Homo sapiens: one gene and its partners. The protein of the gene in region 2 purifies or fractionates together with the protein of the main gene of each other region. This does not show direct contact. Each region holds a gene or a part of one and is shown on either strand. Other genes may lie near its edges. The genes, in order: ADAR, PAK2, PFAS, EIF4E, GDI2, GIT2 and ANXA2.

Region 1 (3,500 bases), on a different chromosome or scaffold from region 2:
CTACAACCAAGCCTGTCCTGGTCCTGGCTGCAACTTTACTCCAAATATGCACATTCCTGGAAGTCAAACAGCTGGTAGTAGTGGGGTTTGGAGGAGGTAGAAAACACCCCTGAAGGAGAGCTGGAATTATGTACCTAATAGGTGATCCTCTCTCAAGGGATGTTTTCCTACTCTGGGCCTTGAAATCTTGCGTCTCAAGTCCCGTGGGACAAGATATTTAATAGTGGGCTCTGGCTGGGAGCAGTGGCTCACGCCTGTAATCCCAGCACTTTGGGAGGCTGAGGTGGACCTCACGAGGTCAGGAGATTGAGACCATCCTGGCTAACACGGTGAAACCCCATCTCTACTAAAAATACAAAAAAATTAGCCAGGCGTGGTGACAGGCGCCTGTAGTCCCAGCTACTCGGGAGGCTGAGGCAGGAGAATGGCGTGAACCCGGGAGGCGGAGCTTGCAGTGAGCCGAGATCGCGCCACTGCACTCCAGCTTGAGAGACAGAGTGATACTCCATCTCTAAATCAATCAATCAATCAATCAATCAATCAATCAATCGTGGGCTCTGCTGGGGAAGGGCCCTGCTGGGTACGTAATCAAAAGGTGCCTGATGAACCCCACCCCACCCAGACGCAAATTTACCCACAAAGGGAGGTTCTTTGAAATGGCTCCTTTCCAAAGGCTGAGGGACAGCCCTGTCCCCCACAGGTTCATGTCAGATGCCACTGGTGCTGTTATCAGAAACCCCAGGGCCACAGGTCCCTTTGTTCCCATTTTCACCTCCCCCAAGAAACCAGGACTTAAAACTTTCTAAGAATTCAGATTCTTGTTTTTTTTTTATTTATGAGGAATGTATATTGTTAAGTCACTGTTATCAAGGGACACATAAAAGCAGAATCATAAAACTGGACTGCAGCCATCATCACAGTACCCGAGTCTATGCTTGGGGGTCTTCCTCACTCTGCTCTTGGAGTCACAACCAAGACTCCAAAAAACCAACGAAGTCCCTTCAATGTGAGTAAAGGAAACAGCTTCAAGCACTGACAATTTTTACAAGTGATTATTCAAGGAATGCACAGTAGCCACAGTTCAGACAAATCAACTACAAAAATCATTAAAAAGAAGAGTAGGGAGGGTCACTGCTTATTAAAAACAAAAGACTGGACAAAGAAAGTGAAGATAACAGTGGGCAGAAGCTCTGCCTCCTCTGTCCTGTGTGACTCAGAGGGGCATGGGGGCGCAGGGATGTGCGATCTGACACGGCTCGTTTCCAGCAGATGCGTGGAATTCAGGGATGCCTCGCTCTCTTCCTACAACAGAAACTGAATACTACAGGCTTGCTAGATAAGATCTTGGGGGTGAGTGGGGGTTCTGATCTTGTGAGAGCCTGTGTTCCCAGTTAAAGAAGAGGCAGCTGGCCAGAGCTCTGCTGGAGAACCTAATGCCCAAGATGGACCAGAGAGGCCAAACAACCTGAGGACTCAGCAGGTGACAACCCTGTAGCCTGAAGAGGAGAGGGGCTGCGCTGCCTTCTGATGCTGAGAACCACAGACCTCTCTGCCCTGGATGTGGGTGCCAAGACTGATTTACTGTGCCCCCAGCAGACCCAGAGCCAGGGAGCAGGCCTCTTCCACTCCAGGAGACAGGCGCCACTTCCCTACCAGTTCCTTGGGATGCTTTGGTGTTCTGCAAAGGCATCCTTAGTCTATTTTTAGAACTTGCATTTTCTTACTTTGGTCAATTTTTGGTCAAAAGTACAGAGAGCATAGAATAAAAGCAAAGATGTGAATGTCTCTACCAGACAGAGGATGACCTAGTCAGCAGTTTGGAGGGAAATCATCTGAGGGTGCTGGCTCAGCACGTTCCCAGATGAAGGTCTGTCATCTAAAGGAGAGAGGCAGGCTCAGCTCCTGAAGGTCGCAGAGCCTCAGTAGTCCTCCTGAGTGTGTCTAGCTGACTGTTATCGAGGGACACGTAAAAGCAGCATCACAAAACTGGACTGCAGCCATCACCACGGCACCAAGTCTATGCTTGGGCTCTTCCCTGCTCTGCTCTTGGAGTCATGACCAACACTCTAAAAGCCAACAAAGTCCCTTCAACATGAGTAAAGGAAACAGTTTCAAGCACTGACAGTTTTTACGAGTGACTATTCAAAGAATGCACAGGAGCCAGAGAGCCAGACTCCACAGAGAGGCCAAAGGCTCTGAACACACGAGTCAATGTTCATGGAGGTATAGACAAAGGATTCTACCTCACAGAGTTTGAAGACAACCTGCCCTTTCACCCACAACTACTGCTTTCTATGTCAACCCTATAAAGATCAGGTCTGCGCCCTGCCCACGAGCCTACTTCTGAAGCCATCTGGAAAAATGAAAGCACTTGGATAAATGGAAAAGTATGCCTGAATTTTAAATCTGCTCAATTACAGGTTATCTGTAGCAGTTAAGAATCAACATCTATGGCATTCTTTAAAACACTCCTAATTTACATGTGACTTAGTCAACTTCCCTTGGTGTCACTGTCATGAGAGATATTACACCGGGTGGAACAGTGACGTTAAGCCAACAGGATTTTTTGCCCTTATTCTTGCTAAGTCATGATTATCTGAGCAGAGATGATTTTATACCCTCTAGGATTTGTCCCGTTGGCTAGGGTGTACGCCCAGCATTGGCGGGGAAAATATTCCTAGGAATGCTTTAGGAGAAGAGGCAGCTGGAAGCTTGGCAATATTCCAAGGCATGCCCGTGCTCCCTGGGAAGTGGTCTGTGTCATCCTGCCGGGTGAAACCTCTGCTATTGCTTGAGCAGCTCCCTTAACCCAGTCTGGCTGGTTCTAGACTTCCCAGCTGCCGGAGAAAGTGATACACTTCCAGGGAAGCAGCTTTCCTTGCCTTGCCCGCCCTGCAGCTGGCTAAAGTGCAGGATGGGAGGATGGCTGGGCATTATCTGCAGGCTCCAATCACACTTCCGTGGCACTGGGAACTGCAGTTTTCAACTCCTACCCTTACAAATGTTTCACCAAATCCTTTATGTTCACCTCTTTGCCCTCTGAGGGGGAAAAGGAGACATTCAGATCACAAGGAAAGAATCTCAGAAGGGAAAGAGGGGAAGTAGAGGGGTCTGCGTAATCCACAAATGAAATTATCAGTCCCTGACATGATCCAGAGTTGACTGAAACCTAATCAAGACCGCAAGAGGTCAGTGTAGCAAACACAAAGGGAAAGGAAATGGAAACAAATCAAAACAAAACTTTTAAGAGGAAATGGACCGCAGGTGCTCAGTGACTATGTATGCTTTGGGTAGAAAGAAAAGATAACTTCTTAGGTTTCTGCCTCTTCACTTGGGGGAAAAAAGGGGGGCCTGGCCAGACCTTGCCTAGCAATCCCAAAGAAAGCAGGATAAATGGGAACCCAAAGTTTTCAGTATCACCAATTATGGCTTAAAAAGAAAAAAAAAGGAGAAAAAAAAATCCCCTGACCATGTGATGAGGAATGCTACGACCTACCTCT
Region 2 (4,370 bases):
TAAATAGTTTTATGTAGGTACCCAACCTCAAGTCAACAAGCAAAGAAACAGGATCAATAATAAGAGGCTAAGAACAAAAAGATACCAAAAAGACTGGGGATGTGACAGCTAAAGGTCACAACTAAATGATGACAATTAGGATTCTAGTTAATTTTTTTTTTTTTTTTAAGTAGCAGCTCTCCTAAAATAATTCTTATATGCTCATAGAGTAACAGAGCAGGCCAGGTGTGGTGACTCATGCCTGAGGTCAGGAGTTTGAGACCAGCCCAGCCAACATGGTGAAACCCCATCTCTACTAAAACTACAAAAATTAGCGGGGTGTGGTGGCGCACACCTGTAGCCCCAGCTACTCGGGAGGCTGAGGCAGAAGAAACGCTTGAACTGGAGAGGCAGAGATTGCAGTGAGCCACGCCACTGCACTCCAGCCTGGGTGACAGAGCGAGACTCTGTCTCAAAAAAAAAAAAAAAAAAAGATAATAATAATAACAGAGTAAGAGCCAGGTTTATACTTGAAAGCACTGAGAAATCAAAACCAAATAAACATGGGGCATATAAACATTTGTTTATTTTTTAGAGACAGGGTCTCACTCTGTCACCCAGGCTGGAGTGCAGTGGCGCAATCACAGCTCACTACAGCCTTGAACTCACGGGCTCAAGCAATCCTCCTGCCTCAGGCTCCCAGTCAGCTGGGACTACAGACATGCACCACCAGGTCTCGTTAATTTTCTTTTTTTCTTTTTTTTTTGAGGGGGTGGAGTCGGGGTCTAAGTTGTATAGTTCGGCCTTGAACTCCTGGACTCCAGCTATCCTCCTATCTTGGCCAGCCAACGTACCGAGATTATAGGTTTGAGCCACTATGCCCAGGCTTTATGTTTAAAACAATCCTTCCATACAGTATTTTTCCTTGAACCCTCTAGATTAGCATTCTTTAATTGTTAATTTTATTTATTATTATTTTTTGAGACTGAGTCTCGCTCTTTCGCCCAGGCTGGAGTGCAGTGGCACGATCTCGGCTCACTGCAATCTCCGCCTCCCAGGTTCAAGTGATTCTCCTGCCTTAGCTCCCCAAGTAGCTGGGATTACAGGCACCTGCCATGACACCTTGCTAATTTTTGTTTTTAGTAGAGATGGGGTTTTGCCACATTGGCCAGGCTAGTCTTGCTCCTGACCTCAAGTGATCCACCCACCTTGGTCTCCCAAAGTGCTGGGATTATAGGCATGAGCCACAGTGCCCGGCCGGTTCGCTTTTTTTTTTTTTTTTTTGAGATGGAGTCTCACTGTTGCCAGGCTGGAGTGCAGTGGCGCGATCTCGGCTCACTATAACCTCCGCCTCCCGGGTTCAAGTGATTCTCTTGCCTCAGCCTCCCAAGCAGCTGGTACTACAGGCACATGCCACCATGCCCAGCTGATTTTTGTATTTTTAGTAGAGGAGGGGTTTCACCATACTGGCCAGGATGGTCTCGATCTCCTGACCTTGTGATCCGCCCACCTCGGCCTCCCAAAGTGCTGGGATTACAGGCGTGAGCCACCGCGCCCAGCCCAACGACGCAATCTTGGCTCACTGCAACCTCCACCTCCTGGGTTCAAGTGATTCTCTTGCCTCAGCCTCCAAGTAGCTGGGATTACAGGCACATGCCAGCACATCCAGCTAATTTTTGTATTTTTAGTAGAGACGGGGTTTCACCATGTTGGCCAGGCTGGTCTTGATCTCCTGACCTAGTGCTGGGATTTAGGGGTGAACCTGGTGACATCACCAGATTGTAATTGAAGCTACTGTTGCTATAAGGAAACAATTTATTCTTTATACTTTAAGTCACAATGTAAAGTGTAAGTTAAAATCCATCTGGGCCAAATGTTTTAAGAGCCGTGAACAATTTAACAATGATGTAAAATGTAGATAACATACTTAATTTCTCCATAATCTCTTCATCTGTCATCTTAGTCTTCTTTTTCTGTTTGTCTAAAGACTTGGCAGCACCATCAACATGTGAATCACCAACTGGTGCAGGAACAGGGTCAATTACAGACCGTGTGTAAATCTGTGGAGACACAGTTCATTACCAAGGTTTGAGGAATAATGTTTTCAGATATTCTTCCTGGCAAACTAATTCAGTTCTTTGATTTTTAACCTGAACTAAGTAGTCTTTTCCATTGTTCTAAATAATGAGAACACTATTTTCAGATATAAAAGATGTGTAACTAAGAAGAATAAATGTGAAACATTTTTCTTTGGCATAGCATGAATATATTTGAAAAGCTGTCTAGTAAAACAGCAGGTCCATGAATGAAATTTAAGTGTGACCAGGTCTAAAATGGTATAACAATGTATCAAAAAGCACGGTTTAAAAATCATGTTTTTACTACAAATGGTAAGTAAAATGCAAAAGAACAGAAACCTTGATGTTGAAATAACTATTATTAATTCCCATGAAAGTTTTTACACAATTATAATGCCTACCACCCATTTCAAACAGCCAGATTGAAAGGCTAAAGAAAACGGAGTCCTCTGCCATCAGCTTGGCATCCAGAGGCTGTCTCCTGAGCTCTGCCTGCCCGCTGTGCCAGGAGCACAGCCCATTCCACGGCACAGCACCTTCCGCACACTCTACCTGCAGTACTGAAGGGAGCAGAATGGTAACCGCAGTCATTCCTCTCTTCCTGGCTCCATTTAAGGTCATCATTTTTAAAATTCTCCCTTACCTGGTTAGGAATTTCATTCTCAACTGCCTTTTGAATGACAGCAAGGCGCTGAGAGTAGTGTAAAATGGGAGATTAAAATGCATAATCTGGGTAAGAGGAAAGCTCTAAGTTTTAGATTTAGTCGTCATCTACATTGAGATAAACAGAGAAAGCTTGGGAAATAGACGAACCCTCTGGAAAAGGTGTACTATACAAAGAAAAAAGCCCAGTGAGGTGAGTGCGTTAACTTTTAAAGACATCACATTTTAATCTTCAGAAAACTAGTTTTAGGTGAGTGGTCTTTGGGTACAGATTTCTTGGTTAAATTTCCCCATACTAAACGATTTTAAACTTGAGGGCTTTTTAAAAGCAATCACTGAAAGTCAAATACAAACTCTGCTATTTTTTAAAACACACGTGCACACACACAGCCTAGATCACCGATGGAGACTCACTGATTTCGTATGATCCGGTCGCGGGGCAATAACGGGAGGAGCAGTCTCTTCATCATCATCCTCCTCCTCTGTCACTACTGCGGGTGCTTCTGTTCCCTTGGCATTCAGCTGCATTGATGATGAGCAAAGTAAGGAAAACAAGTCCAATAGGCTTAAATGCGACTATCGCCCTTTATGAACGTACTTCAAAAAGTTTGCTTCTTTGATAGCTCATTTCAAAACCACTAAATCTCATTAGCTCTTAGATAACTCAATAGAATTATAATCTAACATAATAAGGCGATTCTATGAATCATGAAAAAGTTTATGAAATATATATATATGGTGAGTACCAAATATTTTAATAAAGTTACCCTAAGCATACATATACAATGTCCTGAAAGTAAACAATGTTACTTGTTAAGACCAAAATCAAAGATCCTCTGGGCTTTGTTATGTCAGAGACATCTGGTGACATTTAAAACAGTCAGATTTGGGGCCGGGCATGGTGGCTCACGTCTGTAATCCCAGCACTTTGGGAGGCCGAGGTGGGTGGATCACAAGGTCAGGAGATCAAGACCATCCTGGCTAACACGGTAAAACCCCGTCTCTACTAAAAACACAAAAAATTAGCTGGTCGTGGTGGCAGGCGCCTGTAGTCCCAGCTACTCGGGAGGCTGAGGCAGGAGAATGGAGTGAACCCAGAAGACGGTGCGTGCAGTGAGCCAAGATTGCGCCACTGCACTCCAGCCTGGGCGACAGAGCGAGACTCTAACTCAAAAAAAATAAAAATAAAATAAATAAATAAATAAAATAAAATAAAATATAAAAAAATAAAACTCCAGGAGACTGTTTCCTCCCAATTGAGAAACTGCAAATAAAACGACTGTTTCCAAAAACTGACTGTGTTTATGCGATAACTTAAGTTTCAGATGACTCTGAAGACTGACAAGGTTCAACTGTTCAGCACCTTTCCACAGTCTATATTCAGTAAAATAGTACCAGAAGGAAAACTGAGGGATGGAGAGGAAAATATATGCTAGCAAGTTCTTTGTGTTCACGTTTGTATATGTTAACATTACCAAAACTAACTAAACTGTTCTGAAGGTCATTATAAATTTTAGTTACATTAAGTATCACATCAAGGAATTTCTATTTAATACGGCTTCTTCAACTAATCAGGTGGCTAGCTAAAAACACCTATTGAGTAGTTATTTACCTCTGATGGCTGTAATTTATTTTAGAAAGCAAAATAAA
Region 3 (4,370 bases), on a different chromosome or scaffold from region 2:
GGGTTTCACTCTGTCACTCATGCTGGAGTGCAGTGGTATGATCATAGCTCACTACAGCCTTGAGCTCCTTGGCTCAAGCGATCTTCCCACCTAAGCCTCCTGGGTAGCTGGGACTACAGGTGTACACCACCATATCCAGCTAAGTTTTATTTCTTAATTTTTTTAGAGACAGGGGTCTGACTGTATTCCCCAGACTGGTCTCAAACTCCTGGCCTCAAGTAATCCCCCTGCCTTGGCCTCCCAAAGTGCTGGGATTACAGGCGTGAGCCACTGTGCCCAACCAACTATACTTTTTACTGTTATTTTAGAATGTACTCATTCTACTTATATAAAGCAAGTTTATTCTGGCTGGGCACCATGGCTCACACCTGTAATCCCAGTGCTTTGGAAGGCTGAAGCAGGAGAACTGCTTGAGCCCAGGAGCTCAAGGCCACAGTGAGCTAGGACAGAACCACTGTTCTTCAGCCTGGGTGACAAAGTAACACCCTGTCTCTAAAAAGAGAAAAAAAATCTGACTTGAGAAAGAAAATGCAGATTAAAAATAATAATAATTAACAAAAAAGAGAAAAAAAAGTTTACCTAAAAACGGTATGCCATGTTACATTGACAGTAGCTTCATATTATCTCATATTTACCACGTCTTTTTTTTTTTTTTTGACAGTGGTGCGATCGCAGTGGTGCGATCTCCACTCACTGCAACCTCCACCTCCCAGCTTCAAGTGGTTCTTGTGCCTCAGGAGGCTGGGACTATAGGCATGCACCATGACGCCTGGGTAATTTTTTTTTTTTTTTTTTTGAGATGGAGTCTCCATCTGTCGCCCAGGCTGGAGTGCAGTGGTGGGATCTCAGCTCACTGCAAGCTCCACCTCCTGGGTTCACGTCATTCTCCTGCCTCAGCCTCCGAGTAGCTGGGACTACAGGTGCCCGCCACCACACCTGGCTAATTTTTTTATTTTTTTAGTAGAGACGGGGTTTCACCGTGTTAGCCAGGATGGTCTCGATCTCCTGACCTCGTGATCTGCCCACCTCAGCCTCCCAAAGTGTTGGGATTACAGGCATGAGCCACCATGCCCGGCAGATGCCTGGCTAATTTTTGTGTTTTTAGTAGCAACAGGGTTTCAGCATGTTGGTCAGGCTGGTCTTGAACTCCTGATCTCAGGTGATCCACCTGTCTCAGTCTCCCAAAGTGCTGAGATTACAGGTGCGAGCCACCCTGCCTGGCCCACCACGTCTTGATTGCATTATTTTCTCTTGTGCTTATTTTATTCTCATGCTGTTTTGTTCATCATGGCTCCCAAGTGTACAAAATTCCTGGATAATATTGCCAGTAAGAGGCTGTGTGGATCGTGTAGCAGGCTATGCCATCTAGGTTTGTGTATGTACAGTCTATGAAGTGGGCACAATAATGAAATTACCTAATAGCCACATTTCTCAGAATGAGTTGTCCATCATTATGTGACACATAAGATAAGCCAACATATTAAAAACTAACCACTGAAGTGTTCCCTAAGTTCCCTCCCTGTAGCCATCCTGTGCTGGGGAGAAAGCTGGCTGGATCCAGAGAAAGGTGGCAGGCTCTTACCTGGCTCTGGGGCCTCCTTGCTTATGTGGTCAGCTTCCATGGACCCAATGCCCCCACTAAACATGATGGGCTTGATCCACTCACGCCGCTGGCCGTCTGGGAGCTGGAGGCCCAAGGAGCGGGCGAAGCCTGGAGTGTGAACATCAGAGGGACCTGTCACTCAGTTCCCCCAGTGCTCGCCCAATAGCACAGCCCCTGGGTCGCACACCCCACCCACAAGCCCCTCTGGGTGTTTGTCATCCCTCCACACCCCAGCCTCACCAGCCAGCACTGGTTCCCCAAACTTGTTGCCATAGTCAGAAGCTCCATTACTGGCTTCAATGGCAACCTCCAGGGGCCGGGCAAAATTCCCAGGATACTGGAAGCTTGGATCCTCCCAGGGCAGATTGTAACCTGGGAGGGAAGGAGAGAGAACTGGATGAACTGAATGAACTGTGAAGACAGGCCGGAGCAGCCTGCATCCTTCAGGAAGAGTCAAGGCCACCAAGGACCACCTGCATGGTTGCAATGTTCCACTTCAGGAAGTCCTGCTTTAGGAAGCCCTAGAGCCTGCAGTGAGGCACTGGTCTTCTTTCCACCACCCACACCAGCCTTCCCTCTGAATCTCGCAATCAGAGTTACACAGGCTTTCTGTTTTTTTTTTTGAGATGGAGTCTCGCTCTATCACCCAGGCTAGCGTGCAGTGGCGTGATCTTGGCTCACTGAAAGCTCCGCCTCCCGGGTTCACGCCATTCTCTCGCCTCAGCCTCCTGAGTAGCTGGGACTATAGGCGCCCGCCACCACGCCCAGCTAATTTTTTGTATTTTTAGTAGAGACGGGGTTTCACCGTGTTAGCCAGGATGGTTTTGATCTCCTGACCTTGTGATCCGCCCACCTCAGCCTCCCAAAGTGCTGGGATTACAGGCGTGAGCCACCACGCCCAGCCAAGTTTCTCAGGCTAAGAAACCAGATTTGAGGGGCAGGTACTGATCATAAGACCAACCCAATATCATGCTTTCTGGCTGAATGAAGGCTAGTTTTTAAAGAAAATCGTAGACCTGCAAAAGCAGTCTGGCCACCTCATCTCCCCAGGTCTACACTTATGACCATAGTTAGTGAAAGGCCAGCTATCCTAGAGCCCTTCCTCCTGAGAAAAGGCACACAGGATAACCCTATGGACCTAACAGATAGAAGTTTGCTGCCTGCCAGGACAAGGAATCTGGAAGGGAAGGTGGATAGAGAGGAAGGAGATGGAACCTGGAATATGCAGATTTCCAAAGCAATAGCCGGCAGTGCCAGCCACCACGTGGGCCCCGCGGCCTGTGCACTGGACATCTCGAATCCGGCCCCCTGTGCCAGTGGTTGCACCACTAAAGGGGCATACTCCTGCAAAGAGAGAGTGGGGAGAGGTCTGGGTGCCTCAGAGACAAACCCCCATCTCTGACCACCCCCACTGAAAATAAGGACAACCAATTTCCCTGATTATTTTCCCCAGGCCCACTCCAGGGGCCTGGGACCTTTGCCCTACCCTATTCTGTGATCTCACCTATTTCTCCAGGGAACCCAGCTCACCTGTGGGAAAGTTGTGAGTCTCTGCTGTGAAGACAACATGTCTCAGCCCTTGCTGTTGCTGGAAGCGGCTTGGCCGTGTGGGGTCCTCAGGCCGTAGGAATCGGACTTCCTTTCCCTGGATTGCACTGTGGACATACCCGTCATGGACCTTGCTTCCTTTCTGGGACCTACACTAACCCAACCAGGGCCTGGGGCCTCCCCTCCCCGGGTCCTGACGCCAACCCAGTCTAGGGCACAGCACCTGCTGTTATCACAGAATTTGAGGACGTTGTTGGGGTTCGAGGATTCCTGGGTGCTCATGATGGACTCAAACAGTGAGTGCACCAGCTTCTGCCCATCCACGTGGAGCTGGCCCTTGAAGAACCAGTGTCGGCTGTGCTCGCTGCAGGGGGCGATGCAGGGAGGGGAAGGCAGGTGGAAACGGGGTCATTTCTTAATGCCATGTCTTCTCACCAGCATTTAACAGCAGAGTTACAGCCAAATTCATACTTAGATGACAGATCAAAATATATTCCAAAAAGTCATAATCTTCAAGTATTCTGTCATTTTGGACTATCCAGAGCCAAAGTGAAGATAAAACCAAGATTTGAATGTAGACTCCTTGATGGATGACGGGAGCCCAGGCCCTCAGAGACTCAGGGAGGCCCCTAAGCCAAGGGAGGAACATGAAGGTGAGCCCCTGTGGTCTCTCCCAACACCCATGGGCTCAGGTATGGGAACAACCCCATTTCTCCTCACCTATTGGACTGCGCCAAGTCAAAGGCCTCCACAGTGCTCGGGTTCCGCTGTAGCTCCTGGAAGCGCTTGGTGTAGAAGTCTAGGTCCCAAGAGTCTAAAGCCAGACCTAGGAGACAAATCCAGGAAGAGGTGACTATGGAACTCAGGCAGCCACATTCCAGATCTCAGCACCCCTACTGGCCTATCCTGGACCCTACATCTCCCTCCCCAGCTACTCACCAAGCTCCTGGTTGGCCTTCTCCAGCGCAAGCCGGCCCTCACCCAGTATATTGATAGGGCCATTGAGGGGTTCCGGCATGCTCTCAGGGGAGAAACTCTGGATGGGATGGGGGAAGTGCTGCTCTGTCATCCGGTCGTGCAGGGTAGCCAGAGCAATGGCTTCCACCTCAGCTGACGGGGGGTGGGCAAACTAGGGGTGCAGACACACAGAGGGCAAGGGGTGAAGAGTTTAAGAATGGAGAGAAATGGTCCACCTTCCTACCCTCTTAGTCATGCAAGG
Region 4 (3,549 bases), on a different chromosome or scaffold from region 2:
AAGTAAGGACAGTCCCTGAGCTGACTGCATTTATAGTCTAGTAGAGAAAACATAATCAAATAATCACAAATACATGACAGACCTGTATCACATGCATACTTAAAAACAGAAATCTGTAAAACAAACATGTTTCATTCTTTGATCTAAAATGTTACATTTCACGTCTGAACCCTAGCAAATATTGTATATTACTACACAAATTATATTAACCATACCTGTTATAAGACTGCACAAACAAAAACTAAACACTTTGAGGGAGATTAAACACTTCGAGGGAGTGAATGAAACACTTCGAGGGAGAATGTAATTTCTGCTTTACATACTAACTTTACAACCTAATTTTCAAGTAAGACATGACTCTATTGCAAGAATAAAATGGCACTTGTCATGAGTGCCAAAGAGTAAACATAAGGGCTGTGATACTGTATAACAAGGAGATTCTAATCTCATCTACAACATTAGAGAAGTCTTCCCCTTTAAATATCACGAGGTCAAAAGGATAATGTTAAGAGAATGAGCACATTTGAAAGCTGAGAAATAAAAATTAGGCTGTGTGGCTATGGCTTGTAAGTAAAGTGAACATGAGATAAAGCTGACAAGGTTTCAGAGGAAGATCACAGAGAGCTTCATAGGTCATCTTAAAAATTTGAATCTTTGGCTGGGCGCGGTGGCTCACGCCTGTAATCCCAGCACTTTGGGAGGCCGAGGCGGGCGGATCACGAGGTCAGGAGATCGAGACCATCCTGGCTAACATGGTGAAACCCCGCCTCTACTAAAAATACAAAAAATTAGCCGGGTGTGGTGGCAGGTGCCTGTAGTCCCAGCAACTCGGGAGGCTGAGGCAGGAGAATGGCGTGAACCTGGGAGGCAGAGCTTGCAGTGAGCTTGAGTGAGACTGTGCCACTGCACTCCAGCCTGGGTGACAGAGCAAGACTCCGTCTCAAAAAAAAAAAAAAAAAAGAAAAAAGAATCTTTAGGAAAAAAATAGTAAAAATTCAAAAATAAGCAAAAATCAAATAAAAATAAAGGAATAAAGATATTAATGGAGTTAAATCCTCCAACATGATACTAGGATAGGTTTTTTTTATACCTTCCAGAAGATTTACTACCTTCCCCCTAAAATAAGGTATTAAAAAGTAATTTTATGGTAACTAAAGTGTTAATTATCAAATTTGCATTATAATGCAATGCATTCCTTTCAATTATACTTAATTATTAAAAATGTCAAAAAGCAAGACCATTGAGTCATGCAAATTGGAAGGTTAAAAAAGAAAATCTTCGTTTGAAAATCTGAAGTCTTAATATACACTCAAAAACATTTAATATTGACAAAAATACAAAACTTCCGTAGGAAAAAAATTCTTAATTTAACTCATTTAAAAAAAAAAAAAGTAAATCCTCCAAAATTAGGTTTTGATGCTGGAAGAAACATTAAAATATGATGACAAATCAACTCTTTTCTCTTATGGAACCCCATATAGCATGAAATGTAGAAAATCCCTATACCTTTTGATCCAGAAATAAATTATGTTCACATAAAAATTTACATGGCTGAGAGCAATGGATCACGCCTGAAATCCCAGCACTTTGGGAGGCTGAGGCAGGTGGATGACTTGAGGCTAGGAGTTTGACACCAGCCTGGCCAACATGGCGAAACCCTGTCTCTACAAAAACTACTGCAGTGGTTCAGGCCTGTGGTCCCAGCTATTCAGGAGGCTGAGGCAAGAGAATCACTTGAACCCAAGAGGTGGAGGTTGCAGTGAGCTGACATCGCGCTACTGCACCCCAGCCTGGGCAACAGAGTGTGACTCTGTCTCAAAAAATTAATTAATTTTAAAAAGAAAAATTAATAATATTTGAAAAATCACAAAGGGGCAAACCAAACATTTTGACCACTGACTGACCAGCACTTAATTTTAACATAAAATTGTAAGTCAAATTTTTTTTTTTTTTTTTTTTTTTGTGAGACAGTCTCGCTCTGTCTCCCAGGCTGGAGCGCAGTGGCCCAATCTTGGCTCACTGCAAGCTCCGCCTCCCGGGTTCATGCCATTCTCCTGCCTCAGTCTCCCAAGTAGCTGGAACTACAGGCGCCCGCCACCACGCCCAGCTAATTGTTTTTTTTGTATTTTTAGTAGAGACGGGGTTTCACCGTGTTGGCCAGGATGGTCTCAATCTCCTGACCTTGTGATCCACCTGCCTCAGCCTCCCAAAGTGCTGCGATTACAGGTGTGAGCCACTGCGCCTGGTGTCAAATATTACTAATATAATTGAGGTAAAAAGAAATCTTAGAAAAAAAATGTCAGCTGGTTTAGCATGGTGGCTCACGCCTGTAATCTCAGCACTTTGAAAGGCTGAGGTGGCTTGATCAAGTCCAGGAGTTCATGACCAGTCTGGGCAACATGGCAAAACCTCTTCTCTACAAAAAATACAAGAAAATAGCCAGGTGTGGTCATACACACCTGTAGTTGCAGCTAATTGGGTGGCTGAGGTAGGAGTATCACCTGAGCCCAGGAGGTTGAGGCTGAAGTGAGCCATGACTGCACCACTGCACTCTTGCCTGAATAACACAGTGAGACCCTGTCTCAAAAAAAAAAAAAAAGCCACTTTTGCAAAGAATAAAATTTACAAAAAAAGGTTTAATAAAACCCTACATATGTGGGTTTTAAACATGGAACAAAAACCAAGATATGTTATATAAATTTTAATGAAAATTATACGTAGTAAACACACATGCTTTAAATGCACATATACTATTTGCCAATAATCACTGAATTATTATTATGAGCATACATTAGCTCTTTTCAAAGTAGTACTTTTTTCCAAACAGCACTTTCAAAGTAGGAAATAATACATTCTCATTTGTGAATGAATAAAAAATGCTACATGCCAAAGGAGAGTGCTCTAGTGGTTATATACTTCACTGCTAAGAAAAAGCAATTTTACAGAAATAAAAAACATATGAAAAAGGCCAGGCGCAGTGGCTCATGCCTGTAATGATAGCACTTTGGGAGGCTGAGGTGGACGGATCACTTGAGACCAAAAGTTAAAAGACCAGCCTGGCCAACGTGGCAAAACCTGGTCTCTACTAAAAATATAAAAATTACCCAAGCATGGTGGCATGCGCCTGTATTCCCAGCTACTCGGGAGGCTGAGACATAACAATCTCCTGAACCCGGGAGGCGGAGGTTGCAGTGAGCCTAGATCATGCCACTGTACTATATATAGCCTGGACAACAGAGTGAGACTCTATCTCTAAATAAATAAATAAATAAATAGCTGTGAAAAAACCCAAAAAAACAAGACGTTGCGCACCAATTGAGCCGTTCAAAATTATAAAAGTGTTCACGAAAACAATACAAGGAAAACAGGATCTACAAACTGAAGTATTTCTAAAGCTACAAATAAAATAACTTCTGGTTTTACTCATCTTAATACTGTAAAATAAGTAGGCAAAGAGCAAAACTTACCCTATATGTGTAACAGCTTCTCTGTTTTCACATTCAGTAGTCCATATTGCTATCTTATCACCTTTAGCTCTAACATTAACAA
Region 5 (4,370 bases), on a different chromosome or scaffold from region 2:
CTGCACTCCAGCCTGGGCGGCAGAGCAAGATTCTGTCTCCAGAAAAATAAATAAGAGAATAAAGAGAAAATTATACCAAATACAAACAGCTACGTAAGAGATTACTGGGACCACTGGGAAATTTGAATATGGTTCTGGATATGATATAATGGTATTATGCTTATGCAGGAGAATGTTATTCTTAGCAGATGAATGCTGAAATATTTTGCTCAAGCCTCATGATGTCTTATCACTTTCAATGGATCAAAACCAGTAACAAAAAAAGAGACATGAAAAAAATACAGCAAACTTTAACTGCTGAACTCTGATGGAAGATTTTTTTATACATCGTATTATTCTTTAAACTTTTCAGTATTACTGAATATAGAAAAAAATCCTTTTTGGTAAGTATTGTCTAATAAGTCACTGATTAAAGTCATTGATGATATCTATCTCCCATAAGACACAGTACACATCATATCCATATACGTAGGTGTTCAACAAACCTCACGCAGAAAAACAATCAATATATTAAAACACACTGTGGAAATGCTATGTGTCCACGTTCAAAAAAAGTAGGAAACAAGGCAGTATAGCAAAAGGAACTAAGCTTTGTAGTCATGTAACTTGGGTTTACAACCCATCTCAGATTTTAACCCCACAGAGACTATGTTAAATGGAGATTAAAAAAAAAATCTTTGAGGGACTGAGAAAATAAATAAAGCCATGAGGAAAGCACTGGACTTGCGCTGGCACATCAGACGATCCTCTACCCTCCCTTCCTAGACTATTCTCTGTTAATGCTAAGAGATAACTGCTCCACATAGCAACAAAAGTCAAAATGTAAATTTCTATGAGCTTCAAACCAGAAGCTCCTGAAAAACAGTGCTCCAGATATTCCATTTAACAAAACAAAATTAAGACCATCTCTAAGGAATAAGGTAGAGATTCACAAGTGAAATACTCACAAAGTGTGAGAGGCGTATGAAATTTGACTAACACTTACATCTTCCAATGGTGTTATAGATGCACTCTCTCCTCCGTAGTAAGGGTTTCGATCCATATGAAGAACTTTCTTGCCATTCACTGACATTATACCTGACAGGATACATTCCTATAGAAAAAGCATAGTACCTTGAAAAGAAAGTTCTACAGCATATTTAAAACAGATCATTTTTTTCAAGCCTGCCATTACACATTCTCTTAGTAATTACACTTATATTCATGCAACATGACATAATTTATGAAGAAAGCCCTTAAGAAACCAGGGGTCCAGGTGTGGTCTGTGGGCTCCTATGCATCCCAAGATTAAAACTGTTTCATAATAACACTAAGACATTAGTCACCTTTTAATTTTTTTTTTTTATTTATTTTTTGAGATAGAGTTTCACTCTTCTTGCCCAGGCAGGAGTGCAATGGCGCAATCTCAGCTCATTGCAACCTCTACCTCCAAGGATTCAAGCAGTTCTCCTGCCTCAGCCTCTTGAGTAAGTGGGATTACAGGTGCCCGCCACCACACCCGGCTAATTTTTTGTATTTTTAGCAGAGACAGGGTTTCACCATGTTGGCCAGGCTGGTCTTGAACTCCTGACCTCAGGTGATCCTCCCGCCTCAGCCTCCCAAAGTGCTGGGATTACAGGCGTAAGCCATCGTGCCCAGCCTAGTCACCTTTTCAGTGTTGACACTTCCACTGATGATGTAAAATCAATGGTGGATAAAACAAATTAAGACAGGGCTCTAAACTATACTAGTCATCATTACAGTCTTCATCGCCAGGCATTCATTTAAGGATGTCCTTGATAGGGTGGGCACAGTGGCTCACGCCTGTAATCCCCAGCACTTTGGGAAGCCAGGGGAGGTGGATCACCTGAGGTCAGAAGAGCAAGACCAGCCTCACCAACATGGAGAAACCACATCTCTAGTAAAAATACAAAATTAGCCGGGCATGGTGGCACATGCCTGTAATCCTAGCTATTCAAGAGGCCAAGGCAGGTGAATTGCTTGAACCTGGGAGGCAGAGGTTGTGGTGAACCAAGATCACACCACTGCACTCCAGCCTGGGCAACAAGAGCTAAACTCCATCTCAAGAACAAAAAAAAGGATGTCCTTGATAAAAGCATTAAAAAGTAACTTTATTGGCCAGGCATGGTGGCTCACACCTGCAATCCCAGCACTTCGGGAGGCCGAGGTGGGTGTAATGCTTGAACCCAGGAATTTCAGACCAGCCTGGGCAATACGGTGAAACCCTGTCTCTACTAAATACACAAAAATTAGCAGGGCATGGTGGTGCATGCCTGTAATTCCAGCAACTCAGGAGGCTGAGGCAGAACTGCTTGAACCCAGGAGGCAGAGGCTGCTGTGAGCTGAGACCACGCCACTGCACTCCAGCCTGGGTGACAGAGCAAGACTGAGTAGCAAAAAGAATTAATAAAGTTATTTAATAAACATATACCCTTCAATAGTCATCTTTTAAACATTGTGTGTGAAAAAATGGGAAGAATACAGACAGCACTTCAGCTCAGGGAAAACCTGTGCCACTGATCTGTAAGCTGAACTAGCCGCTTTTTTTTATGAATAATCATTTTTATTTGAAAGAACTGACCAACAAACTATGATTATTCAGATTTAGGTATTTGACATTTTCTCAAAGAAAACCTAAAGGAAAATAACTGACACGTGCTGCCAATAAGTCAAATTTTAAATGAAAATTAGAATTACCGAAAACTTGGCCGGGCACAGCTGCTCACACCTGTAATCCAAGCACTTTGAGAGGCCGAGGCGGGTGGATCACAAGGTCAGGAGATTGAGACCATCCTGGCCAACATGGTGAAACCCCATCTCTACTAAAAATACAAAACTTAGCTGGGCATGGTGGCGCATGCCTGTAATCCCAGCTACTCGGGAGGCTGAGGCAGGAGAATCGCTTGAACCAGGGAGTTGGAGGCTGCAGTGAGCCGAGATCGCGCCACTGCACTCCAGCCTGGTGTCAGAGCAAGACTCCATCTCAAAAAAAAAAAAAGAATTATGGAAAACTTACAACTACCACCATGGGCACACGTCAGGTTCCCCAATACATGAAGAACTTTTCTAACATTATCAGTGACAATACTAACAAATATGATGTTTTGATAATGTAAAATGAAACATGTCAACATTAAGACCCACTTTACTCAGAGTAAACCTTGTTTTCCAAATAACGGGTGAATGAAATTACAAAATCACACAGGAGGAAAAAAGAGGAATTCAAAGTGCAAGCTAGATCAGTGGGTGTTAATATATCAGAATATAAAACATTCATTAATGTGGCTTCAGATTTCATACTGCTATCTCTTAAAAACTACCACTTGTGCTTTTGTGTAAACCAAAGAATATCTACAATAACCTGAAAGGCTATATTTAAATTACTCCTCCCTTTTCCAATTACATGTCTGTGTGAGACCTGTTTTCATATACTTCAGCCTAGACAATATATCGCAACAGAACTGAACACAGAAGCATGTATGTGAATTCAGTTTTATTAAGCCAGACATTAAAGGATTTGCAGAAAACGTGAAATATTGATAGTCTTCTCACAATTTTGTTTTAGAAAATATACTCAGGCAGATGGCTTAAGCCCAGGAGTTGGATGGAGACCAGTCTGGGCAACAGGGCAAAACCCTATCTCTGCAAAAAATACAAAAATTAGCTGGGTGTGGTGGTGAGCACCTGTAGTCCCTGCTACTCAAGAGGCTGAGAGGTGGGAGGATTACTTGAACCCATGAGGGCAAAGGTGCAGTGAGCCGTGATAAGGCCACTGCACTTCAGCCTGGGTGACAAAGTGAGATCCTATCTCAATAACAAAAAAAAAGTACATATACAGTTAAAATTGTTATACATGTTAACATGTAATCGGTTTATTATTTGTCAGTGATTTATTTATTCCTCCATTTCTAATATGATAAATATCAATAGCTACAACCTTTATAAACAAAAGCTCAAGGTCCTGAATTTTTTAGCACGTGAACAGATCCTGAGACTAAAAAGTTTGAAAACTAGAGCCCTAAGCAAAGCATATAGGACAACCACCAATAAATTGACCATCAACCGAAAAGTATAAATGACCACTCTCAGGAAAAAGATAAAGCAAGCATGAATACACTAAGACAAACCAAATTAAGAAGAGGGAAAAAATTAATACAATTAATGTGAAGAAACACAGAGATGGGGCATATAATCACTCAAAAAGGGTTTGAGTGATCAGTGCTTTATTTCTTAAAGAGACAAAGGAAATTCCATGTATCTTTATAAATCTTTAATATTTCTCAAATTTATCCAAAGGACCCTAGATGTCAAAGAACAATCTTATTCTCTACAAGTCTATTTGACTTTGAAACCCGTATTTTTAAAATTCA
Region 6 (4,370 bases), on a different chromosome or scaffold from region 2:
GACAAATATTAAGTGAATAATATAGACAGTACATGGGTCATTAAGAATGTTGAAAATAGTGTTTAATTAGGTTTGGGAAACCCTGCTCTAAGGTGTCAGAGTACTTTTTTTTCTTTCATACAGAATAAGAACAGTTCAGTCACACTTTAGGTATTTAACTATCCTACTAGTCAAAGCTGAATCCTGCATATAGATTGATCATCTTTCTCATTCTCAAATCAGAAAACAATGATATGAATGATATTCCTAACAAATGAGTGTTTATAACAGGACTTTGTTTACTCTGTTCAGTCACTGATCCCCATTGAATATTTGTGAAAAGAAATTAAAGTCTTATGTCATCCTGCTTGGTTTTAGATGGTTGAGACCTTGTATAATAACGGTGCTAACTCTATATGGGAGCATTCTTTGCTGGACCCTGCGTCTATTATGAGTGGAAGACGTAAAGCTAATCCACAGGATAAAGTACAGTGAGTGGAATGTTTATAAATACTTTTATTTCTTCATAACAAATGGGGCCCACTGAAAGGAGTGCAGCTATTTTTGGTCAGTCTCCGCAAGGGCAGCAGAGGAGGGGGTTACCCTAGTTGTGCATCAGGTTCTTTGCTATTAGAAATGCAGAATGGGGTGGGGCAGGACCATCTGTTTAGCATGGCCACCCAGCAGGAGTAAGTGGCTTCCTCAGTTGGAAACCATGGCTTGGAGTCTGTAAATGTAATCAGATTTAAACTTATACTCAAATAAGAGGCGATCAGACCAGAAATCTAGGTCTGGGCACCCGTCTGCCTGTTGCCTCACTTATAAGATGGGACTAAATGCTGCTTTCTCCCAAAGTTGCTAAATCAGTTCAGACAATTACACAGAGAAGAGGGCTACTATAAAAAGCAGGTACTCTGGAGTCCCAGCCATTATAATAACTAATGTATGTTTTCAAACTGCAGGTCTTAAACCTTGCTGAAACTTACTTGAGCATTGTTCATTTTATTCTCAAGTGGGGGATGTGGGTCACTTCCTCTTCTTTTTACAGTACAAAGAATGGGGATTGTTGTATCTGAACGAGTGAACTGTTTTCTTTTTTGTTTTTGAACCAGTCCCAATAAAGCGGAATTCATCAGAGCCAAGTATCAGATGTTAGCGTTCGTCCATCGCTTGCCCTGCCGGGATGACGATAGTGTGACTGCCAAAGATCTTAGCAAGGTGGGTCACACCTTTTAAAATCCCTAAAAGAGCGGGCTGAGACAGCATATTGTTTTATTTGAAAAAACGAAAAAAAAGTCTGGTTGTGGGCTTTTTTTTTTTTTTTTTTTTTTTGAGACAGAGTCTCTGTTACCCAGGCGGGAGTACAGTGGCGCGATCTTGGCTCCCTGCAGCCTCTGCCTCCCGGGTTCCAGCGATTCTCCTGCCTCAGCCTCCTAGGTAGCTGGGATTACAGGCGCATGCCACCATGCCCAGCTAATTTTTGTATTTTTAGTAGAGACGGGGTTTCACCATGTTGGCCAGGCTGGTTTCGAACTCCTGAGCTCAGGTGATCCGTCTGCCTCGGCCTCCTAGTGTTGGGATTGCAAGCGTGAGCCACTGCACCCGGCCAGGGTTTTTTTGTTTTTCGTTTGTTTTTTTTGAGACAGGGTCTTGCTCTGTTGCCCAGGCTGGAGTGCAGTGGTGCAATCACGGTTCACTGCAGCCTTGACCATCCAGGCTCTAGCAATCCTTCCACCTCAGCCTCCCGAGTAGCTGGAACTACAGGCGCATTACCATACCCAGCTAATATTTTTTATTTTTTGTAGAGACGGGTTCTTGCTATGTTGCCCAGGCTGAAAAAAGTTTTTAAAGAAAGAAAAACAAAAACTCATTTCTGCACATTCATTAATTAATAGCTTTTTTGTCAGTCGGTTTCGTCTTTAATCTGAATTCAAATGGCAGCCATTCATATAGTGGAGGTTCAGGGCAAAGAGGAAAAGTAAGTCTCTGGAAGGCTGTTTGTGTTTTTCCAATATGGCTTTTAAATTATATTTTGATAAGTTTTTTGTTTGTTTAACTTTGAAATAGGAACCATCTCAGAGTTGTTTCTAGAAGGGACTAGAAAGATTATAGGACAATTGTTTCTTTTTAATAAGGACTAGAAAAAGTACTAAAGGAAGGGGACTTCTTCAGGTTTCCAGGTTGAACAGTAAGTATGATCTTCAGAAAGCAATGTGTGACTCAAAGCTATAGTACACAGAATGGTTTATGATACTTGTAAAACGAGTGAGGTGGTTTTCTTTATGTGGGCCTTCGCATGTTTTTGAGAGATGCTGTAAGAAATGTGCATATTTTCAAAGCGCTGCCTTGGATAAATGCTTACTCACACAGAGCATGAGAACTTACTTATTCAGAACTTTTTTTATTACTTTTTGGCCGGGTGCGATGGCTCACTCCTGTAATCCCAGCACTTTGGGAGACTGAGACTGGCAGATCACTTGGGCTCAGAAGTTCAAGACCAGCCTGGGCAACATGGCGAAACCCCGTCTCTACAAAGAATATAACAATTTTAGCCGGGTATGGTGGCCGTGCCTGTAGTACCAGCTACCTGGGAGGCTGAGGTTGGAGGATGACTTGAGCCCAGGAGGTGGAGGTTGCAGTGAGCTGAGATTACACCATGGCACTCCAGCTTGGACAACAGAGCAAGACCCTGTCTCAAAAAAAGAAAACATTTTCTGCATCTATTGAGATGATCATGTGGTTTTTGCTTTTGCTTCTATTTATTTATTTATTTATTTATTTATTTTTATTTATTTTTGAGATAGAGTCTTGCTCAGTCGCCCAAGCTGGAGTGCAGTGGTGCGATCTCAGCTCACTGCAAGTTCTGCCTCCCAGGTTCATGCCATTCTCCTGCCTCAGCCTCCCAAGTAGCTGGGACTACAGGTGCCCACCACCACACCCGGCTAATTTTTTTTGTATTTTTAGTAGAGACAGGGTTTCACCATGTTAGCCAGGATGGTCTCGATCTCCTGACCTCGTGATCCTCCCGCCTCGGCCTCCCAAAGTACTGGGATTACAGGCAGGAGCCACCGCGCCTGGCCTGCTTTTACTTCTATTGATGTGGCAAATTACATTTATTGATTTGTGTATGTTGAGCCAGCCTTGAATCTCAGCAAAAAAGCCTACTTGATCATGATGGGTTAATTTTTTTATTTTTATTTTTATTTTTTATTTTTTATTTTTTTGAGACAGAGTCTCGCTCTGTAGTCCAGGCTGTAGTGCAATGGCATGATCTTGGCTCACTACAACCTCCGCCTCCCAGGTTCAAGTGATTCTCCTGCCTCAGCCTCCCAAGTAGCTGGGATTACAGGCACGTGCCACCAGGCCCAGCTAATCTTTTGGTTTTTTTTTGTTTGTTTGTTTGTTTGTTTGTTTTTGAGACGGAGTCTTGCTCTGTGGCCCAGGCTGGAGTGCAGTGGCGCAATCTTGGCTCACTTCAAGCTCCGCCTCCCGGGTTCATGCCATTCTCCTGCCTCAGCCTCCTGAGTAGCTGGGACTACAGGCGTCCGCCACCACACCCGGCTAATTTTTTTGTATTTTTAGTAGAGACGAGGTTTTACTGTGTTAACCAGGATGGTCCCGATTTCCTGACCTCGTGATCCGCCCACCTCGGCCTCCCAAAGTGCTGGGATTACAGGCGTAAGCCACCACGCCCGGCCATTTTTTGTATCTTTAGTAGAGACGGGGTTTCACCACGTTGGCCAGGCTGGTCTCGAACTCCTAACCTCATGATCCGCCTGTTTCAGCTTCCCAAAGTGCCGGGACTACAGGCCTGAGCCACTGCGCCCAGCCATGGTGGATTAACTTTTGATGTGCTACTGGATTTGGTTTGCTAATATTTTGTTAAGAGTTTTTTAAAAAATCTGTGTTCATCATGGATTTTGGCCTGAAGTTTTCCTTTTTTGTTGTGTCTTTGCCAGATTTTGGTATCAGGCTGATGTTGGCTTCACAGAATGAGTTAAGGAGGAGTCTCTCCTCTTTGATTGTTTGGAATAATTTTAGTAGGATGTTCTTCTTTGTATGTCTGGTAGAATTCAGCTGTGAATCTCTTGAACTGGGGAGACGAAGGTTGCAGTGAGCTGAGATCATGCCACGGCACTCCAGCCTAAACGACAGAGTCTCACTCTGTTGCCCAGGCTGGAGTGTCGTGGCACAATCATGGCTGACTGCACCCTCAACCTCCCTAGTCTCAAATGATTCTCCCACCTCAGCCTCTCAAGTGGCTGAGATCTCAGGCATGTGCCACCAAGCCTGGCTAGTGTGTGTGTGTGTGTGTTTTGTTTTTGTTTTTTTTAGATAGAGTCTCTGTTACCCAGGCTGGAGTGCAGTGGCACGATCTCGGCTCACTGCAA
Region 7 (4,370 bases), on a different chromosome or scaffold from region 2:
CAGATTGAATTTGCTGATTTTTTTTTTTTTTTCTTGTTGGAGAGTTGAAACCAGTCGGCAAGCTGGGTGAGGTTGAAGTGTTGGAAAGAGTGGTGCAAACTGCCATTTTCATGTTCTTTAGAGAAGTCTGCCAGAAAAGGAGTAGTGGTTCTGTTTTTAATGGATTTATGAGTTTTATACGGTGATGAGGAGTGAGTAGAGGTGAAATTGTCTCATACAGCATGTAGGCTTTATTTTTTATTTTCATTCAAAACAGTAAGTACACTGAAGTCAGAGTAGTTGTTTTCAGTAAGAAAATTCTGCCTCCAGAGCAAATGTTTTGGTGAATAGATAAATATGAGTACTGAGTCCCAATCATTTTGGCTCATAGGTTCCCCAGTATTTCCATAGGCAAGCTTAACTTTGCACCATTCAGAGACTTATATTTTAGGTTCCCCACAGGGCACCCCACTGGACGTGGCTCATTTTCCAGCCTGTAGTCTTGTTCTTCTGCCACCCTGGGGCATTATTCCTCTTCCCCTCTCCCCAGGCCTTCCCCCTTGCTTCTTGGCTGGAACCTCCCATGGTGATTCACCCTTCTCAGCCTAGGCAGACAGCACCTCCCTGTTAAGCCCTTAACTAATCCCGCTCTGATGGCTGTGATCTTTCTCTCTGTGTCTTAATCACTTGGAATAAAGAACCATTGTGGTGAGGTTGAAAGGGCATTGGCCCAGGAGTCTGGGGATCTGGGTTTTGGCCCTGCCTCAGCTACTTAATTCACTGGGTGACCCTGGACTAGACTCTCAGTGTGTCACAGAGGCACGAAGGGAAGAGAGCTCAAAGGTCCTGCAGGGTGGAAGTCTGCATTTCACAGTTTTATAAGTGTCTTTTGTATCCTTTAATATAGTGCAGGCTCAGCGTATGCTTGGTATGGGTTCGTTGATTAATTCCTTGCGTATTACCAGTGTTTGTAACCTACAGTAGCACTGCCAAGACTTCCTTTTCCTGCTTTCAAGGATAGCAGCACACTGACACATTCTCATTAGTCAAATATGCTATATTAAACTAATGTTTTAACAAACAGTGAATCGCAAAGCCAACTGTTCCTTCCAGCGAATAATAGATCATATGCAAAATGACTTTGCATTGCTAGGGGATTTGATGGAGTGAAGAAGCAAGCACTGTATTTTATTTCTTTTTATTTTGTTTTGTTTTTTGGACATAACCTCAAGATTTTATTGTCCTCATAATAAAACAAAAGATGATGCTTAGAACTGGATCACTTGGCCCTTTCTTTTGTTATCTCCTCCCAGTTGAAAATGTTTGCATGTCTTAACAGCCAGCATTTTCTTAGATCTGCAGATGGGGTCAGCACACTCAAGCCTCAGCACAACCTCCTTTGTAATTTTACCCGTTTTCCAGAAAATTGCCTTAGTCTACCCACCATAGTCACTCTGCTTCTTGTCATAACGCCGCTTTCCCTGGGCATACAGGGAGTCCTGGTATTGTGCCGTTTTGTGGGGTTGGTGCTTGCCACACTTCTTACAGAAAGCCCAGTGGGTTTTAGGAATGTTCACCATGTTTTCCGGAATGCTATCGGCATGGGAGGAAAGTGGCCATATTTTATTTCTAGGGTGAAAATGTTTGCCATTAAACTCACATGAAGTAGGAAATATTTATATGGATACAAAAGGCACCTGCATGGGATAATGTCAAATTTCATAGATACTGCTTTGTGGTAAGTGTGACTTTGTGGTTATTGTGATGTTTGTGTTTTGTTTTTTTTTTCTGCAAAATGGTTATACATAGTATAAATGTTATGCAAAATAGCAACTCATTGTTTTCAAGTTGATTTAGCACCTGCATTATGTAAAGATAATCTGAAATCTGTAGGGGGACTGGGACTATGTAGGGAAGATGAGGTCAACCATATACTTTCTACTGCTTTGAATTGTACCTATGCATTCACCATTTGAATACTTGGCACGTGTAGGGCACTTAAAACATTCTGCCGAATGGATGAATGAAGTGGTATCAAAAAGTGCCCTGGCAGTGAAAGGCAAGATAGAGTTCTGTAGAGTAGGGGTCGTGGTGACCCTGTTGGAGCAGATACTGAAGTAGTGGTGAGTGCGGAGAGGCAAGTCACATTTTGGCCCTAGTCAACTGTAGCTGAGGAGTAAACAGAGGGAACTGTTTACTGTTTACAGGATTCTGATGCTCATCTTTGAAGGCTGGGCTCTGCTGGAGGACTGATTTTGAATGATGTCAAATGATTTTGACAAGATTAAATGGGGAGATTTAGTTGGTGGTGGCATGCAGGACTGATTTGATGAAAGAGCAGCACAGTTATGAATGGTGAAACCGAAAGGAAGATTTGTGGGGCTTTTAACAGTCTCCTCAAGGTGTTGTGGCTGTGGGAGAAGAATTAACATGAATGGAGAGTGTAAAGAAGCCTATCAGATTGTCTTTGATCTGCACAGTACTGGGGAGTCCCATGTGGGACACGGGTAGGCAGCAGTCTACAAAGCTCAGAGCTGGAAAGACAACTTGAAAGAACAACACAATGAAAAGTTACCGTGCCTCTAGTTGAGATTTTCTAAACATCGGAACCAATGTGAGGTGTCTGATTTCATAAACAAGTGGAATTTAATCTATACTCTCTAAGTGGAAACAACTCTGTTTGCAACTCTGACTTGCTAGTTCCCTGGTTTTGCTTTTGTTTTACGTTTGGCATTTTTTATTTCTTGCCTGTTTATGGTAGAGACTAGAATTCTGCACAGCAGATGACAACAGTTTATCCCCTGCTGCAGACCTGGTCCAGTTCTGACTGAGTCCAGGGGTGATAGTTAAGGCCAGGGCTTGGGTGGTTTGATGTCCATCCTAGGAGTTTCACCTCTGCTTCGGTAATTCTCGGGCTGAGGGATACTGATGAGACCCTCTAGAATGTTTCTTGGTCCATGTTGAAGTTAGAGATTTCTTGCTCTGTCAAGAAGACTGTCAGCCTGGGCAAGGTAACGCGACATTATCTCTACTGGAAAAAAAAAAGCCAGGTGTAGTGGCACACGCCTGTAGTCCCAGCTACTTGGGAGGCTGAGGCAGGAGGATCTCTTGAGTCCTGGAGATCAAGGCTGCAGTGAGCTATGATTGCACCACTGCACTCCAGCCTGGGTAACAGAGAGAGAAACCCTGTCTCAGACAAAAAAAAAAAAAAAAAAGGTCTAGGTGTGGTGGCTAACCCCTGTAATCTCAGTGCTTTGGTAGGCTAAGGCGGAGGGATTGCTTGAGCCCAGGAATTCAAGACCAGCCTGGGCAACACAGTGGGACCTTGTCTCTACTGAAACATTAAAAAAAAAAGGAAAAAAAATGGAAAAAGGAAAAAGGAAATTAAATGGAAATAAGATATATTCAACATATCATAGTTGTAATTGTAATATATGATCAATATATAAATTATTGGGCTGGACACAGTGGTTTATGCCCGTAATCTCAGTGCTTGGATCACTTGAGGCTAGGAGTTCGAGACCAGCCTGGGCAACATAGCAAGACCCTGCCTTTACCAAGAAAGAAATTATAAATGAGAAATTTTATATAATTTTTTCATACTATGTCTTCAAAATTCAGAATGTCCTTTACACTTATAGCACATCTCAGTTTGAACTGACCACATTTCAGATGCTTTGTAGCCACATGAGGCTGGTGGCTACTGTATTGGACGGTTCTGCTACAGAGCAAGACTATTCTAAATTGTCTTTTTTTTTTTTTGAGACGGAGTTTTGCTCTTGTTGCCCAGGCTGGAGTGCAGTGGTGTGATCTTGGCTCACTGCTACCTCTGCCTTCTGGTTTCAAGCTATTCTCCTGTCTCAGCCTCCCGAGTAGTTGGGATTACAGGCGCCCGCCCCCACGCCCAGCTAATTTTTGTATTTTTAGTAGAGATGGGGTTTCACCATGTTGGCCAGGCTGGTCTCTATCTCCTGACCTCGTGATCTGCCTGCCTCGGCCTCCCACAGTGCTGGGATTACAGGTGTGAGCCACCGCACCCGGCCGATTGTCTTCATTTTTAGGAAAGTTTTAGGTTCATGGCAAAGTTGAATAGAAAATACAAAGAATGCCCATGTTCCCCTGTTCCCACATACGCATAGCTTCCACTGTCAACATCCCGTATCAGGGTGGTACATTTGTTAGAACTGATGAACCTACATTGACACATCGTTACCACTCAAAGTCCATCGTTTACATTAGCATTCACTGTTGGTGTTGTACATAGATGCATCCACCATTACAATATCAGATAGAATCATTTCATTGCCTTAATAATCCCCTCCCCTGAATCCCTGATCTTTTTGCTGTCCCCATAATTTTGCCTTTTCCAGAATGGTATGAAGTTGGAACTA

What was found.
Region 1: the proteins of PAK2 (region 2) and ADAR purify together in Homo sapiens (affinity purification with mass spectrometry; one large-scale study listed by BioGRID and IntAct). This does not show direct contact.
Region 3: the proteins of PAK2 (region 2) and PFAS fractionate together in Homo sapiens (co-fractionation; one large-scale study listed by BioGRID). This does not show direct contact.
Region 4: the proteins of PAK2 (region 2) and EIF4E purify together in Homo sapiens (co-immunoprecipitation; one large-scale study listed by IntAct). This does not show direct contact.
Region 5: the proteins of PAK2 (region 2) and GDI2 purify together in Homo sapiens (co-immunoprecipitation; one large-scale study listed by IntAct). This does not show direct contact.
Region 6: the proteins of PAK2 (region 2) and GIT2 purify together in Homo sapiens (affinity purification with mass spectrometry; 3 studies listed by BioGRID and IntAct, with this or other methods). This does not show direct contact.
Region 7: the proteins of PAK2 (region 2) and ANXA2 purify together in Homo sapiens (co-immunoprecipitation; one large-scale study listed by IntAct). This does not show direct contact.

The regions. Positions count from the first base shown.
Region 1 is NC_000001.11:154,581,258-154,584,757, forward strand, and holds the end of ADAR (double-stranded RNA-specific adenosine deaminase), read right to left. Parts: 3' UTR 800-3,500; downstream 1-799. UniProt on the Homo sapiens protein: Catalyzes the hydrolytic deamination of adenosine to inosine in double-stranded RNA (dsRNA) referred to as A-to-I RNA editing.
Region 2 is NC_000003.12:196,805,451-196,809,820, reverse strand, and holds part of PAK2 (serine/threonine-protein kinase PAK 2), read right to left. Parts: intron 3,243-4,370; coding exon 3,135-3,242; intron 2,040-3,134; coding exon 1,907-2,039; intron 1-1,906. UniProt on the Homo sapiens protein: Serine/threonine protein kinase that plays a role in a variety of different signaling pathways including cytoskeleton regulation, cell motility, cell cycle progression, apoptosis or proliferation.
Region 3 is NC_000017.11:8,255,412-8,259,781, reverse strand, and holds part of PFAS (phosphoribosylformylglycinamidine synthase), read right to left. Parts: intron 4,281-4,370; coding exon 4,091-4,280; intron 3,978-4,090; coding exon 3,872-3,977; intron 3,516-3,871; coding exon 3,375-3,515; intron 3,259-3,374; coding exon 3,134-3,258; intron 2,948-3,133; coding exon 2,819-2,947; intron 1,976-2,818; coding exon 1,844-1,975; intron 1,712-1,843; coding exon 1,583-1,711; intron 1-1,582. UniProt on the Homo sapiens protein: Phosphoribosylformylglycinamidine synthase involved in the purines biosynthetic pathway. Catalyzes the ATP-dependent conversion of formylglycinamide ribonucleotide (FGAR) and glutamine to yield formylglycinamidine ribonucleotide (FGAM) and glutamate.
Region 4 is NC_000004.12:98,881,455-98,885,003, forward strand, and holds part of EIF4E (eukaryotic translation initiation factor 4E), read right to left. Parts: coding exon 3,468-3,549; intron 1-3,467. UniProt on the Homo sapiens protein: Acts in the cytoplasm to initiate and regulate protein synthesis and is required in the nucleus for export of a subset of mRNAs from the nucleus to the cytoplasm which promotes processes such as RNA capping, processing and splicing.
Region 5 is NC_000010.11:5,799,613-5,803,982, forward strand, and holds part of GDI2 (rab GDP dissociation inhibitor beta), read right to left. Parts: exon of another isoform or gene 3,479-4,370; intron 1,094-3,478; coding exon 986-1,093; intron 1-985. UniProt on the Homo sapiens protein: GDP-dissociation inhibitor preventing the GDP to GTP exchange of most Rab proteins. By keeping these small GTPases in their inactive GDP-bound form regulates intracellular membrane trafficking.
Region 6 is NC_000012.12:109,985,790-109,990,159, reverse strand, and holds part of GIT2 (ARF GTPase-activating protein GIT2), read left to right. Parts: intron 1-357; coding exon 358-470; intron 471-1,091; coding exon 1,092-1,197; intron 1,198-4,370. UniProt on the Homo sapiens protein: GTPase-activating protein for ADP ribosylation factor family members, including ARF1.
Region 7 is NC_000015.10:60,387,560-60,391,929, reverse strand, and holds part of ANXA2 (annexin A2), read left to right. Parts: exon of another isoform or gene 1-1,717; intron 1,718-4,370. UniProt on the Homo sapiens protein: Calcium-regulated membrane-binding protein whose affinity for calcium is greatly enhanced by anionic phospholipids. It binds two calcium ions with high affinity. May be involved in heat-stress response.